2 separate regions of the Homo sapiens genome follow, and region 1 is linked to region 2. Evidence: fine-mapped expression QTL. A gene starts in region 2. The other region holds a variant in brackets. All regions are shown on one strand. Distances are between the middles of the regions.

Region 1 (8,328 bases), 43 kb before region 2:
ACAAGTGTGCATGGACTACACGTGTGCGTGCAGGTGTGAGCTGTGAGATGGGCACCCAGAGAGTGTGAGCTTGGCATGTGTGGGCATGTGAGAAACCTATCACATCCCCCTAGAGGGTCCAGAACCCACAGCCTACAGAAGGGCCACAGGTCCAGCTCTGTTGGGTTACTCTGGAAATGACATCGGTGTCCACCACCCTGCTCCCCCCGGGGGGGCCCTGAACTTGGTGGGAGGTCCCAGAGGGCAGATACTGAAGCCCTGCCCAGCTCTGCCTCCATCTCCCTCCTCTAGCCGGGACGACGTTATCGGAAAGGTCTGCCTTACAAGGGACACCATAGCTTCTCACCCTAAGGGTAAGTTCTCCCTTCCCTCCCGCACTGGTCTGCCCAGTCCCTGGCCTCCCTCCCACTCAGAGACCTCCCCTCTAGGCTCCGTCTGGTCTCCTGCTCAGGGAAAGCCATTTCTACTCTCCCCAGAAGCCGGGGCCACGTTCTGTACTCCTGGCCTCTGTTCTGCAGCATGTTCCCAAGCCTGGTTGTTACTGCCTCTTCCCTAGGGTGAAGAGGGGCTGCTATGGGTGGAATCTGAGGCCTCTGCTGGCAGAAGAAGGGGCCTCCTTACACTCTATTGCTGAAGCATAGGGACCCCTTCTCCAAATCAGGCCAGCTCCTTCTGTAACCCATGGGGTCTCCTCCATCTGGGCCCTAGTACTACTGTGTCCTAAGTCTGAAGGGTTGGCCTAGAGCCAGTCCAGGCTGGAGATCCCTTTCAATTATTTCTGGGATGCAGACATTGTTTTGTGTTATTGTTTTTACAATTTTTATATAGTTTTTTAAAAAAAGAAAAGGCCGGGCACGGTGGCTCACACCTGTAATCCCAGCACTTTGGGAGGCCGAGACGGGTGGATCACGAGGTCAGGAGATCGAGACCATCCTGGCTAACATGGTGAAACCCCGTCTCTACTAAAAATACAAAAAAATTAGCTGGGCTTGGTGGCAGGCACCTGTAGTCCTAGCTACTTGGCAGGCTGAAGCAGGAGAATGGCGTGAACCCGGGAGGCAGAGCTTGCAGTAAGCCGAGATCGCGCCACTGCACTCCAGCCTCAGCAACGGAGCAAGACTACACCTCAAAAATAAATAAATAAATGAATAAAAAATAAAAATAAAAAATAAAATAGAGGCCGGGTGCAGTGGCTCACACCTATAATCCCAGCACTTTGGGAGGCCGAGGCAGGTGGATCACCTGAGGTCAGGAGTTCAAGACCAGCCTGGCCAACATGGCAAAACTCTGTCTCTACTAAAAATACAAAAAATTAGCTGGACGTGGTGGTGGGCACCTGTAATCCCAGCTACTCAGGCGGCTGTGGCAGGAGAATCGCTTGAATCCAGGAGGCGGAGGTTGCAGTGAGTCAAAATCACGCCATTGCACTCCAACCTGGATGACAGAGCAAGCTCCATCTCCAAAAGAAAAACAAAGATGGAGGCCGGGCATGGTGGCTCACACCTGTAATCCCAGTGGCAATTCACTTGAGATTAGGAGTTCAAGACCAGCCTCGTCAACATGGTGAAACCCTGTCTCTACTAAAAATATAAAAATTACCTGGGCATGGTGGCACTCACCTGTAATCCCAGCTACTAGGGAGGCTGAGACAGGAAAATCTCTTGAACCTGGGAGGCAGAGGTTGCAGTGAGCCAAGATTGCGCCATTGCACTCCAGCCTAGGTGACAGAGCAAGACTCTGTCTCAAAAAAAAAAAAAAAAATGGAGATGGGGGGTCTCACTCTGTTGCCCAGGCTGGTCTTGAACTCCTGGCTTTGACAGATCCTCCCGCCTTGGCCTCCCCAAGGTGCTAGGATTACAGGTGTGAACCACCATGCTCTGCCAGACATGATTTTGAGGGTTCAGCCCTGTGCCAGCCTCACTGTGTGTGACCTTGGGCAGCTCTTGCCTTCTCTGGGCTTCTCTGAGGGTTCAAACCAGTTCTTGGATGCTATGGGCTCTGCCATCAGAGCCTTTGTGTCCCGCTTACTGGCTTGCCCCCACACACACCTGCTCCTGTCTGTGACGCTGGGCCAGGGATGGGGGCAGGGCGGAGGCAGGTTCTGCTGACTCATGGGGCTTCTTGGCCCCTGCCAGGCCAAAGGCCTTTCCCACCTGCAGCCTTAGCCAGCGTCTCTGGGGTCTAGTGGCCCCAGTGAGGCTATTCCTCCGGGTGCCTTGTAGCTTCCCCATCCAGGCCTCAGACCCTCCTCCCAGCAGCCCTAGGGGAGGGCCACTCTCTTCCTGTTTTAAGATGGGGAATCTGGCTGGGTACAGCGGCCCACACTTATAATCCCAGCACCTTAGGAGGCTGAGGTGGGAGGATGGCTTGAGGTCAGGAGTTTGAGACCAGCCTGAGCAACATAGCAAGACTCCATCTTTTTTTTTTTTTTGAGATGGGGTCTTGCTCTGTCACCCAGTCTGGAGTGCAATGGCGCAATCTTGTAGCTTCTCCATCTGGGCCTCAGACCCTCCTCCCAGCAGCCCTAGGGGAGGGCCACTCTCTTCCCGTTTTAAGATGGGGAATCTGGCTGGGTACAGCGGCCCACGCTCATAATCCCAGCACCTTGGGAGGCTGAGGTGGGAGGATTGCTTGAGGTCAGGAGTTTGAGACCAGCCTGAGCAACATAGCAAGACTCCATCTTTTTTTTTTTTTTTTTTTTTTTTTTTTTGAGATGGGGTCTTGCTCTGTCACCCAGTCTGGAGTGCAATGGTGCGATCTGAGTTCAAGTAATTCTCCTGCCTCAGCCTCCTGAGGAGCTGGGATTACAGGCATGCGCCACCACACCTGGCTCACAGGGTGAGACCCTGTCTCTAAAAACAACAACGACAAAAATGACACAATAGTGAGGGCACAGGCCCCAGGTCACTGACTTAGATTCTAATCCCAGCTCTTCCAACTGCTGTTTCTTCACCTGCTGAGCCTCAGTTTCCCCATCTGTCATTGGGGATACCAGCCCCTGCTTCACGGGTGCCTAGGGGATTCCCAGGAGATTATGGAGGTGCCTCAAGGTGCCTGGTAGGGCTGAGGGTGGAGGGTATGGGGGTTCAGGGCCGTGTCCCTGGCTGAGCTGACCCCACAGGTTTCAGCGGGTGGGCCCACCTGACGGAGGTTGACCCTGATGAGGAGGTGCAGGGCGAGATCCACCTGCGGCTGGAAGTGCGCCCAGGGGCCCGGGCCTGCCAGCTACGCTGCTCTGTGCTGGAGGCCAGGTGAGACTCAGGGGCCTGGGGGCGGGCAGTGGGTCCCCTGCAACTAGAGAAACCCAATGAGGAAGCTGAGCCCCCCCTCGCCCCACCTCTACCTCCTGGTCCCAGAGCTGGCCACCTCCCATCAAAGCCTGCTCTCAAGAGAGGGTCTCGCCAGGCACAGTGTCTCACACCTGTAATCCCAGCACTTTAGGAGGCCGAGGCAGGTGGTTCACCTGAGGCCAGGAGTTCAAGACCAGCCTGACCACCATGGTGAGACCCTGTCTCTACTAAAAATACAACAATTAGCCGGGCATGGTGGCAGGCGCCTGTAATCTCAGCTACTCAGGAGGCTGAGGCAGGAGTCTTGAACCCAGGAGGCAGAGGTTGCAGTGAGCCGAGATGGCGCCACTGCACTCCAGCCTGGGTGACAAGCGAGACTGCATCTCAAAAAAAAAAAAAAAAAA[G/AG]AAAGAAAAAAGAGAGGGTCTGGGGAGGTTTTCTGGACTTGAAGATGCTTCTTGGGTGATTTCCACTCAAGGGGATATGTCCCTTAAGGGACAGTCTAATGTTCTCATGGAGGAACTGGAGCCATCACAGAGGAGTGGAGTAGGGGGTACGGGTGAGGAGACCCCGAACTCTGATCACACAGCCTCAGTCCCCCAGTGCTAAGGCCGGCTTCCTTATGTTTAACGCCAGTGTGAACTTGGCCTGGTGGGAGTGTGTGTAAGTGGGTCCCTCGTGGGGCTGGGGGGGTGAAAAGAGTTGCTGAAAATCTCCCGATGGGCAAATTGAGGGTTCCCCCAAGGAGGGACAGTGGTTTGGATGGTTCCATGGGCCTGAGTCACCTGTGACAGGGCCACCCCCCAACCCCCAGGGTATTTTTAGCTGCAGGCTGCACTCCCGTCTGGGCCTGGGTCTGAGTCACACTCTGTCCGTGAGAAGCGTCTTCCCTTCCAGCTCCAAACCCACCTCCCCAAGTTGCTCCCTGCCTGTGAGGCAGGAGGGTGGCCCCCAGCCAGGCAGCCCTATGGAGCCAGTGTTCCCCCCACCCTTGAGGGGTCAGCCTGTCTAAGAGGAAGACTTCCCTTGGGCAGAGGGGTGTGGGTCGGATGATGCCCATGTTGCTCACTCTGGCTTCCCGGGAGTTATTTTCTGTCCTGGGAAAATAGAAATGGATGGAAAATGTCTGGGCTTGGGCCGAGCCTCAGCCACGCCCCCACACTCGCTCACTCTCTGGCCCTGCCATTCATTCCCCCCCGCCCCACCCCAACTCACCTGCTTCTTCCATCCTTATCCTTTCTGGGCACCAGGCTGTCTGGGGGACAGGCATGCACACGTGTGCACCCGCTCACACACGTGGCCGGGCTCTGGGACCTCGGGGCCACTTCTCCCAGGCACCCATCGTCACCCACGGAGATGGGAGGCATGGAAGCATGTCTCCCTGGCCCTCCCCTCTCTCCAGGAATCTCCCCTCTCCCATCCTCTGGGGCCACAGTGGTTGGCCTTCTAGTGAGTCCTAGCAGGGGAGAGGAATGTCCAGGCCTCTCTCAGAGTGAGGGGACTTGTCCCCCGTTGTCCTCGGCAATGAGACTCCTGCTGCAATTCCAAGTCAGCCTAAGAAGGTCCATTTGCTGCAGAGGAAGAAAGAACATTTCCTCCTTATTTTTTCTGGGGAGATTCTCAATATTTCAGTAAAACCTTGGGGTTTTTTTGTTTTTTGTTTTTGAGACAATCTCGCTCCATCATCCAGGCTGGAGTGCAGTGGCCCGATCTCAGCTCACTGCAACCTCCACCTTCTGGGTTCAAGCAATTCTCCTGCCTCAGCCTCCCTAGTAGCTGGGATTACAGGTGTGCACCACCACGCCTGGCTAATTTTTTGTAGTTTTAGTAGAGACGAGACTTCACTATGTTGGCTAGGCTGGTCTCAAACTCCTGACCTCAGGTGATCTGCCTGCCTCGGCCTCCCAAAGTACTGGGATTACAGGCGTGAGCCACTGCACCCGGGCTGTTTTTTTTTTTGGTGTTTTTTTTTTTTTTGAGGCAGTCTGGCTCTGTCGCCCAGGCTGGAGTGCAGTGGCGTTTTCTTGGCTCACTGCAACCTCTGCCTCCCCAGGTTCAAGCAATTCTCCTGCCTCAGCCTCCTTCCCAAAGTGCTGGGATTATAGGAATGAGCCGCTGCACCCAGCCTCAATGTTGGGGGGTTTTATTAGACAGTCTTGAGGGGGAAGAAAGGCAGGTATGAGAGGCTTAAAATATCGAAGATGAGTGGGCTTTGGTGTTCTTCCACAAAGAGTTCTAAGTAGGGGATACTGGCAGGGTGCAGCGGCTCACTCCAGTAATCCCAGTGCTTTGGGAAGCAGAGGTGGGAGGATCTCTTGAGGCCCGGATTTCGAGACCAGCCTGGGCAACAGCAAGATCCAGTCTCTACAAAAAAATTTAAAAATTAGCCAGGTGTGGTGGGGCACACCTATAGTGCCAACTACTTGGGAGGCTGACGTGGGAGGATTGCTTGAGCCCAGGAGGTGGAGGCTGCAGTGAGCTATGATTGCATCACTGTACTCCAGCCTGAGCAACAGAGCAAGACCCTGTTTAAAAAAAAAAAGAAAAGAATAAAAGGGCCAGGCGCGGTGGCTCACGCCTGTAATCCCAGCACTTTGGGAGGCCAAGGCAGGCGGATCACCTGAGGTCAGGAGTTTGAGGGCAGCCTGGCCAACCTGGTGAAACCCTGTCTCTACTAAAAATACGAAAATTAGCTGGGCGTAGCGGCAGGCCCCTGAAATCCCAGCTACTTGGGAGGCTGAGGCAGGAGAATCACTTGAACCCAGAAGGCGGAGGTTGCAGTGAGCTGAGATCGTGCCACTGCACTCCAGCCTGGGCGACAGAGCAAGACTGTTTCAAAAACAAAACAAAACAAACAAAACAAAAACATATGTGTGCAGGTATCTTTTTTGTATAATGACTTCTCCTCTGGGTAGATATCCAGTAGTGGGATTGCTGAATCAAATGGTAGTTCTACTTTTAGTTAGTTAAGGAATCTCCGCTGTTTTCCATAGTGGTTGTACTAGTTCACATTCCCACCAGCAGTGTAGAGGTATTCCCTGTTCACCACATCCTCATAGTCAGTACTGTTCTGCTGTGTGGCCTCGGATACATCTTTTCCCCACCCTGGGCCTCAGTTCTCCCCATCTGAGAAATGGGTGGGAGCTTGGACAGGACATTTTAACCTCTGCTGTGGCAGAACCTCCAAGGCGAGGAGGCTGTGGGGAACCCAGGGGAGGTGTCTAGGGCAGCTCTGCCTTTTGCCCAGCCTGGGGAGTCCAGTGGCATCAGCCTAACCCCCTCCCACCCTCCTCTGGGCAGATCATGAAGAAGTCATGCTACCCACGCTGGAATGAGACGTTTGAATTTGAGCTGCAGGAGGGGGCCGTGGAGGCGCTGTGCGTGGAGGCCTGGGACTGGGACCTTGTCAGCCGAAACGACTTCCTGGGCAAAGTGAGCACCACCGCCCCGCCCCCCCTCCTCCCCCGGCAGGCTGCACCTGCTGTCCCCCAGCACCTGGCTCCATTGCAGCCATCCCATCCTCAGGGACCTCCTTCTGGCTTCCCCAAAGAGGGACACTCAGGAAGCCTGGGACTACCCCCCCACCTCCACCGTCTGCCAGAACCAGCAACTTCCCCCCACCACCACTGGCACTCAGGGACCCTTGGAAGAGGCCCCTCCCCACTAAGAACAGTAGTTGGCAAGGAGGAGACCTAAGTCTCCCAGCTCCAGGAAAACTGCCACTATGTCCCCAGGTGGTGATCGATGTCCAGAGACTGCGGGTGGCGCAGCAGGAGGAGGGCTGGTTCCGGCTGCAGCCCGACCAGTCCAAGAGCCGGCAGCATGACGAGTAAGTGCATGGAGCTGGGCAGCCGGCCTCAAGGGGTGGGGTGGGGGCTGACATTTGGGAATTGGCTACAGGCAGGCAGGGCAGGGGGGCTGCTCAGGGGTGAGAGGTCAGGAGACACAGCTCCAGGGTCCCCTCAGCCCCTGCCCACCTAGCCAGCATCCTTCTCATCCCGGCTGGGCTCCACCTCCCCTTTATTTATTATTTATTTATTTATTTATTTATTTATTTATTTATTTATTTATTTATTTTGAGATGGAGTCTCACTCTGTCCCCAGGCTGGAGTGCAATGGCGTGATCTCGACTCACTGCAGGCTCTGCCTCCCAGGTTCACGCCATTCTCCTGCCTCAGCCTCCCAAGTAGCTGGGACTACAGGCACCCGCCACTGCGCCTGGCTAATGTTTTGCATTTTTAGTAGAGACAGGGTTTCACCATGTTAGCCAGGATGGTCTCGATCTCCTGACCTGGTGATCCACCTGCCTCGGCCTCCCCAAGTACTGGGATTACAGGCATGAGCCACCGCGCCCGGCCCCTCCCCTTTATTTTTCCCCACAGTTCTGCATTCAGCTCAGCTCTGTCTTCTGTCTTTTTTTTTTTTTTTTTTTTTTTTTTGAGATGGAGTCTTGCTCTGTCACCCAGGCTGGAGTGCAGCGGCACAATCTTGGCTCACTGCAACCTCCACCTCCTGGGTTCCAGTGATCCTCCTGCCTCAACCTCCTGATTAGTTGGGATTACAACTGTGTGCCACCATGCTCGGCTAATTTTTGTATTTTTAGTAGAGACAGGGTTTCACCATGTTGGCCAAGTTGGTCTCGAACACCTGACCTCAAGTGATCCACCCGCCTCAGCCTGCCAAAGTGCTAGGATTACAGGCATGGGCCACCAAACCCGGCCAGGTCTGTCTTCTTAGCTCACAGGTTGTACAGGTCTCCTGCTTTCTGCCTCTGGAAGTTTCTGAAACAAGTACTCAGACATTTTCCCTTTGAAAATTTCCCTGCAGACCTCAGACCAGGGTTCAAGTCTCCAAGGTCAGTGTCCCTGAGCCATAGCTCCAACTCCCTATGCCAGATTCTCCAGGAATAGGGTTGTGAGATAAGATAGGACACCGTTGGCCAGGAGCGGTGGCTCATGCCTGTAATCCCAGCTCTTTGGGAGGCCAAGGTGGGAGGATCACTTGGGGCAAGGAGTTTGAGACCAGCCTGGGCAAGAAAGTG
Region 2 (8,328 bases):
TTCAATTTGAAACATTCATTTGAAAACATTTTTTTAAAGGGTTGAAGTTGGTTAGAAAGGGCTGTGGATTGGAAACTAAGGGGGCAGCTAGTAGACACCACACACCTGGCTCAGGCTTGCATACTGCTGGCTACCTGCTCAGCACCCATCCGCCTTCCTCCTTTCTGAAGGACTGCTGTTCAGTTCTGGTCAACTCACTGTCAGCTCCAGGTCTAAGAGTAACCAGACTCCTTGCCACTCATTGGTTTCGGAATGAGCATGAGACATAATTCATAACAAGGCAAAGGGAAAAAAAGATCTGCTGGGCTTTCTGAGAATATTCTTATCAGTTCTTCTGGAAGCAGTTGTCTCTATTACTCCCAGATGTCCAGCAGGCTGTGTGTTCCAGAGCCATTCAGCCCAGAGTGACACAGGAACAGACCAGGAGAGGGGGACTGAGTTGCTCCCAAAGTCCTGCCACAGGACCTCCAATTCCATGCACAAGGGCAGCTCAGCCTCTGTCACTTGCAGCCAAGACATCCTAACTAGTGGTGGCCCAATGGTGCCATCTCACCACGGCAGGCTTGACACACTTTTAAAGTTGTATTTCCTACAATTCTGTTGTTTTTCCCCAGGAATTGCTACAGAATTTGCAGGGCCTTGTGAATGTGAAAATGTAGGGTCTCAAGTTCGATAATTATTAAGAATTTCCTGATAGTGACAGCAGAGCATAAAACCAAAGGCAGAGCCCATCCAAGCCTGGGGCCCTGTGAGAGTGAATGCGTCACACACACATGAAGCCAGCCCTGACCTTGATTCTTGTTTTGCTTTTGTTTTAAGACAGGGTCTCACTCTGGTTGCCCAGGCTGGAGTGCAGTGGTGAGGCTCACTGCAGCCTTGACCTCCTGGGCTCAGGTGATTCTCCCACCTTAGCCTCCTAAGTAGCTGGGATTACAGGTGTGTGTCACCACGCTTGGCTAATTTTTTTTTTAATTTTTATTTACTTTTTTTTTTTTTTTTTAAGACAGAGTCTCGCTCTGTCACCCAGGCTGGAGTGCAGTGGCACAATCTCAGCTCACTGCAACCTCCACTCCTGGGTTCAAGCAATTCTCCTGCCTCAGCCTCCCAAGTAGCTGGGATTACAGGCATGCACCACCATGCCCAGCTAATTTTTTTGTATTTTTATTACAGAAGAGGTTTCAGTAAGTTGGCCAGGCTGGTCTCAAACTCCTGACCTTAAATGATACACCCGCCTTGGCCTCCCAAAATGCTGTGATTACAGGCATGAGCCACCTCACCCGGCCATTTTTTTATTTTTAGTAGAGATGGAATTTTGCTGTGTTGCCCAGTTGGTCTCCAACTCCTGGACTCAAGCAATCCACCTGCCTCGGCCTCCCAGAGTGCTGGGATATAGGCATGAGCCACTGTACCCAGCCTGTCCTTGATTCTTATCAAGGAAAAGTTCTCCCTGGCCTTATGATTTCAATTACCTTGGATCTATAGTTGACATTTCATGCTCAAGGCCCAAACTTGTTTTTCCAAACGCTCCCTTTTATAAATCTTATCAGCCTACACATTTGAATATGTAGGCTCAAACCTTTATTCCTTAATCTCTCCTACCCTCCTCCCTGCCTTCAAAACTTCTGATTCCCCATCCTAGACACTGACACCACCATCCACTAAGTGACCCATTTTGTACACCTCCTTGTTTCACTTTCACCACATCCTCTCCTCGAGTCCTGTCAATTCCACTTCTGCAATGTGGTCCAGGCACTGCTCTGGCCTAGCATCCATTCCATGGTCATTAATTTGGACAAAGCCTCTACTGAACCTTCACAACAGCCTCTAGTCTCCCTCTGTCCCACTTCCGGCCACACTGCTGCCAGAAAGATCTTTTTAGAACACAGATCTCAGCATGTCATTCACCTGCTTCAAAGTCCTAGGATGACAGATGACCCCTTTCAGAGAATAACTCATCAGAATTATCTCTCTTTTGGACAGCTATTTATTTAAAAAAAAAAAAAAGAGTCATACTCTCAGAGATCCTGTAATTCCACCTCTGGCAATCAAACCCAGTAATGTGAATTAAGGAAAAGGCTCATTGTACAATGATGGTTGATCTGGTTTGGATATTTGTCCCCCCCAAATCTCATGCTGAAATGTGATCGCCAGTGTTGGAGGTGGGGCCTAGTGGGAGGTATCTGGGTCGTGGGGGCGGATTCCTCATGAATGGCTTGGTGGCCCCCCCACAATAATAAGTGAGTGCTCACTCTATTAGTTCATGTGAGATCTGGGTGTTTAAAAGAGGTGGCATCTCTCTTGCTCCCTCTCTTACCAGGTGACACGCCTGCTTCTCCTTTGCTTTCTGCCATGATTGTAAGCTTCCTGAGGCCTCACCAGAAGCAGATGCTGGCACCATGCTTCTTGTACAGCCTGCAGAACCGAGAGCCAAATAAACCTCTTTTCTTTATTAATTACCCAGCCTCAGATATTCCTTTATAGCAACACAAAACAGACTAATACACAGTTCGTAACAGCAAATACTTAGTGAAGAATTTTGAACAATAACAGCAGCTAACTCGTATTGAGTGTTTGGTATACAGCAAGCATGTGCTAAACACATTTCATAGCATTTAATTCTCAAAACAACTCTGTAAACATGTAGGACTGGGAGGCTAGGAATGATAAAGTGCCTTGCCCAAGGTCCCACTATAAGTGACCTCACATTCTCTAACCCAGGTCTGTCTGACACCCAAGTCCATACTTTTACCTACTACAGGTAATGACTAAATAAGTTACTAGTCATGTACTTGTGGAAAGTTAATGTTAAAAATTAGTTATAGGACTGGGCATGGTGTCTCACGTTGTAATCCCGCCACTTTAGGAGGCAGAGGCAAGAGGACCGCTTAAGCCCAGGAGTATGAGACCAGCCTGGGCAACATATCGAGACACTGTCTCTACAAAAAATAAACAATTGGCTGGCATGGTGGCATGTAGTCCCAGCTACCCAGGAAGCTGAGGAGGGAGGATCACTTGAACCTAGAAGGTTGAGGCTGCAGTGAGCCATGATTGTGCCACTGTACTCCAGCCTGGGCGATACTCCAGCCTGGGCGACAGAGCAAGACCTCAAAAAAAAAAAAAAAAAAAGTTATAAATACTACTTCACAACATGCTTACATTTACTATTATGTGAATAAGTGGAATACAAAATGCAGTATAATTGTTTTAAATATAGAAAAAAAACTGAAGGTAGGTATGCTAAAATGTTAACAAATAGTAAAGTGATAGAATTAGAAATACTTCTTTCTTCTACTGTTGTGCGTTTTCCAAATTCTAGTGAATGCATTAAACCCTCATGGACTCCCTCTTACCTGCAGGATAAAAACCAGTTACTTCAGCACTGCTCCTAAGGACCACCCAAGTCCACACCATCTGCCCTTCAGCTTCCCCGCTACCCTGTCAGTCCTCCAAGCCTCGTAGTCTCCCCGTTGCAGGGAAAGCCTTTTCCCCTTTTCCCCACCTGCCGAGTTCCTACTCATCCCTTAGGACCCAGCTTCTTCCTGGATACCCTTCTGGATACCCACCCAGCCCTTCTGGATACCCTACAGGGGGAACCCGCTGTCCAGAAGCCTGCAGGTGGCCCCACGGCGCCCCGCCCGCATGACGCAGCCCTCGTGGCCACGGCCCGGCCCCGCCCCGCGCTCGCGCAATCCCTTTCTCAGGCTGCGTTCGCTTTTCAGGCTGCGCGGGAGGCTGTTCTGCCTCCTTCCCAGGCAGGTGTATCCGCGACTCGCGGAGCCTCCGTCACCTTTCACTTCACGGCAGCGGCGCCCCGCCCACACCTCGACGCTTCGGACACCCAAAGAGTTGGAGGGTGGGAAAGTGCGTACCTTCTGGATCCGCTTTAGCGCCATCCTACCCCGCTGCCGGGGACCCGGGCGGCCCGGCCGGGGCTGCCTGAGGCGGCCCGCTGCCGGCTCAGCCGCCACCAAGCTGCACGCCGGGAGCCGCAGCCTGCGCTTGCGCGCGCGGGGCACTGTGGGGCCGTCGTCGCCGCGTGCCGAGCGTCCTGGCGCGGCCGAGGGGAAGCAGCGGGGCTGCCCGGGTTACGCTGGCCACCCGCACCTGGTCCTGTGGCTTCGACCACTAGTCAGCAAGGCCCCGGAGAGGCCAGCGAAGAGGAGGGGCTCGTTGGCTTTACGGAGACGCGCGGAGCACCCTCAAGGTGCCACACGCTCGCCTGCTCCCTGTTCCTACATCCTGGGCGTCTTCCCAGGCTGTCATATAACTCCTGAGAATAGTGGTTCTTAACTCTGTAAGTATATATACCCTCGTACGCCTTATGGCTGGATGCGTTACAGCCATTTCCATGTAGATGTCTGTGCATACGTTCACACGCAAAACTCTCCGCAGTTTTGGAGATCTCCGTGTTCAGTCGTACCTCACGTGATCTTGCACTGCCAACATTGAGAACCCTGGCCTTAGACTATGCATCTCCCAAACTTAATTATCTGTCTCCTTCCTATTTTCCCAAGACTTGGCAGGCGTCTAGGTCAGAGTTGTTCAAACTGAGGGTTATGAACTAGTGTGTCACGAAATCAATTTAATAGGTTGCAACCAACATTTTTTTGAAAAAAAAAAAAAAAAAGCCAGACGAGGTGGCTCACGCCTATAATCCCAGCACTTTGGGAGGCCGAGGCAGGCGGATCACTTGAGGTCAGGAGTTCGAGACCAGCCTGGCCAACATGCTGAAACTCCGTCTCTACTAAAAATACAGAAATTAGCTGGGCGTAGTGACGTATGCCTGTAATCCCAGCTACTTGAGAGGCTGAGGCACGAGAATCACTTGAACCCAGGAGGCAGAGGTTGCAGTGAGCTGAGATCACACTGTTGCACTCCAGCCTGGGTGACAGAGCGAGACTCTGTCTCAAAAATAATAAAAAATAAAAATAAAAAAACAGAATAAAATATCAGTGCATTTCACATAGTAAAGGTAAGAATTGTGGAAGTTTTGTTGGTGTGTGTATGTAGATGATATTTAATCTTCAGACTGAGACATGTTTGAGCATGAAAGTGGCTGTTAATATAATTACTCTGGGACCAACGCTGTAATCTAGAATTGTCTCCAGCCAGCCAAGACACATGGTCACCTCTATGTTTGTACTCAGTCAGCATATAAAATGTATTATAGACATTTCAATAGTTGCCCAGCTTTGTCCCTGGCTTTCACGCTCCCATTCCCCCAATCTGTCCTCCACACAACTTCATGAACTGTCTGAAATATAAAGCTTACCACACTGCATCCTTACCCAGAACTCTTCAAGGAAGCCCCGTGGCCTACAGCATCACATTCACTGTCATCCAGGGGCCTTCAAAATCCAGGATCCTCGGCCGGGCACAGTTACTCATGCCTGTAATCCCAGCACTTTGGGAGGTTGAGGTGGGTGGATCCCTTAGTCCAGGAGTTCTAGACCATCCTGGGCAACATGGTGAAACCCCGTCTCTACAAAAAATACAAAACTTAGCTGGGCATGGTGGTGTGCACCTGTAGTCCCAGCTACTTGGGAGGCTTACTTGAGCCCAGGAGATCAAAGTTGCAGTGAGTTGTGATGGCACCACTGCACTCCAGGCTGGGAGACAAAGCAAGACCCTGTCTCAAAAAAACAAAAACTCAAAGTATCCTCCAGCTTTACCTTCTCCTTCCTACCTCCAGCCCACCTGACTATCAAGTGTTTCCATCACCACAGCATCTACATTCCTTGACTAGAGCATTCACCTTCCAAAGCCAGCTCAAGCATCACCCATTGAACAGCCCAAGTCAAGCACTTCCCCTTGGTGTCAAACATTGACAACAGAAATTTTTGTTAGTCCATGGGCCATCCATCCTCCTACATTATTGACATGGCCTTCCCTCCCCATAAAACAAGTGATTCTAGATTTTATAAATGTTGATATATTTGTGTAAGAATATATAAATGGTTATTTATGTGCTAATAATGTATATGGTGGTTTTGAAGTCTCAAATCTCAAAAATATTACTTTTGGATGGTAGGTTTACTAATGTGTTAATCTCTAAAATTTCTACAGAGAATTTGCATCATTTGTATAATTCAGGAAAAAAACATATAATAGAAAATGAAAAATTCTGTTTCTATTCCCTGTTGGTAGTTTAGTGCATAGTTTTCTAAACTTTTTAGCATGCTTATATGTAATGTTTCATTTTTAACATTGAAATAATTTTAGATGTACAGAAATGTTGCAAGAATAATACACAATTGGTCAGGTGCAGTGGCTTATGCCTGTAATCGCAGCACTTTGGGAGGTCAAGGCAGGTGGATTGCTTGAGGCCAGGAGTTTGAGCTCAGCCTGGCCAACATGGTGAGACCCCATCTCTACAAAAAATACAAAATTTAGCCAGGTGTGGTGGCATGCACCTGTAGTCCCAGCTACTTGGGAGGCTCAGGCTCAATAATTGTTTGAACCCAGGAGGCAGAGATTGCAGTGAGCTGAGATTGCACCACTGCCCTTCAACCTGGGCAACAGCGAGACTGTGTCTCAAAAAAAAAATAATAATAATACACAAAAGATTTTTAAATGGATAAATTTGACTACATGAAAGTTTAAAACTTTTGTGCTTCAAGCAATACCAACTAGAAAACAAAAAGACAACACACAGAATGCGAGAAAATGTTTGAAATAATAATATCTCAGTACAGTCTAAGATGCAGAGTATATTAAGAACATTTAGAACTCAATAAAAAAGACAAATAACCCAATTAAAAACTGGGCAAAAGATGTGAATAGAAATTTCTTCAAAGAAGATACTCAACTGGACAATAAGCACATTTTAAAAAAATCAGGCTGGGTGTGGTGGCTCAGGCCTGTAATCTCAACACTTTGGGAAGCTGAGGTTGGAGGATTGCTCGAGGCCAGGAGTTTGAGACCAGATTGGGCAACATAGCGAACCCCTGATTCTACAGAAAAATTTAAAAGTTAGCTGGATGTGGTGGTGTGCATCTGAGGGCACAGCTATTCGGGAGGTTGAGGTATGATTATTGCTTGATTCCAGGAATTTGAGGCTGCAGGGAGCTATGATTGAGCCACTGTACTCCAGCCCAGGAGACAGAGCAAGACCCTGTCTCTTTGGGAAAAAAAAAAAAAAAAAGGCTGGGCACAGTGGCTCACACCTGTAATTCCAGCACTTTGGGAGGCCAAAGAGGGCAGATCATGAGGTCAGGAGTTTGAGACCAACCTGGCCAATATGGTGAAACCCCATCTCTACTAAAAATACAAAAATCAGCTTGGCATGGTGGTGCATGCCTGTAATCTCAGCCAGTTGGGAGGCTGAAGCAGGAGAATCGCTTGAACCTGGGAGACAGAGGTTGCAATGAGCCGAGATTGTACCACTGCACTCCAGCAGCCTGGGCAACAGAGCGAGACTCCTTCTAAAAGAAAGAAAGAAAGTAAGAGAGAGAGAGAGGAGAAAGAGAGAGAAAGAGAGAAGGAAAGAAAGAAAGAAAGACGGAAAGAAAGAGAAAGAAAGAAAGAAAGAGAAAGAAAAAAAAATGCCTGGTGTGGTGGCTTACATCTATAATCCCAGCAGTTTGGGTGACTGTGGTGGGAGGATCACCCAATCCAGGAGTTCAGGACCAGCTTGGGCAACATGGCAAGACCCCATCTCTACAAGAAAAAAAATTTTTTTTCTTCACCAAAAGCAGATACTTGAAAAAATTTTAAGAATTAGTAGAGCATGGTGGCGCATGCCTGTAGTCCCAGCTATGATTGCTTGGGCCTAGGAGGTTGAGGTTGCTGTGAGCCCCATTCACGCTACTGCATTCCAGCCTGGGAAACAGAGCAAGACCCTGTCTCAAGAAAATAATAATCATGAGTTATAAGGGACATGCAAATCAAAGCCATAATGAGATACCACTTCACACCCTCTAGGATGGCTGTAATTAAAGGGACAGACAACAAGTGTTGACAAAGATGTGGAGAAGTTGGAACCCTCACACATTCTGGTGCGACTATAAAATGGTGCAGTCATTTTTGGAAAAGAGTTTAGCAGTTCCTCAGAAAGTTAAGTGATACCAAGTATGGTGGCTCACACCTGTAATCCTAGCACTTTGGGAGGCCAAGGCAGGTGGATCACCTGAGGTCAGGAGTTCGAGACCAGCCTGGCCAACATGGTGAAACCCTGTCTCTACTAAAAATACAAAAATTATCCAAGTGTGATGGTGCACACCTGTAATCCCAGGTATTCGGGAGGCTGAGGCAGAATCGCTTGAACCTGGGAGGTGGAGGTTGCCAGGAGCCAAGATCGCGCCACTGCACTCCAGCCTGGGTGACAGT

Alleles and levels. Alleles are on the strand shown, and positions count from the first base shown. SD is a standard deviation of normalised expression in the study named.
For the expression in monocytes of the gene that starts at base 3,990 in region 2, allele G in region 1 goes with a lower level than allele AG (large effect, 0.77 SD a copy in Kim-Hellmuth 2017).

Evidence for each region. PIP is the estimated chance that this variant, and not a neighbour inherited with it, causes the effect.
Region 1: its variant is the best candidate, but not a certain one, in a credible set for the expression of UBE2D4 in monocytes (Kim-Hellmuth 2017, PIP 0.73).

The regions. Positions count from the first base shown.
Region 1 is chr7:43,964,655-43,972,982 of GRCh38, reverse strand. It overlaps the pseudogene POLR2J4. Among named protein-coding and RNA genes, the nearest start is that of SPDYE1, 29 kb to the left of the region's middle. RefSeq lists an enhancer at 1,586-2,103. The variant G/AG (reference allele first, on the strand shown) is at 3,695.
Region 2 is chr7:43,922,098-43,930,425 of GRCh38, reverse strand. It overlaps UBE2D4 (ubiquitin conjugating enzyme E2 D4), which reads right to left and starts at 3,990. Exons shown (of 7, transcript NM_015983.4): 1 at 3,870-3,990. The coding sequence starts at 3,893. It also overlaps a transcript of URGCP not described here. RefSeq lists a silencer at 3,557-4,096.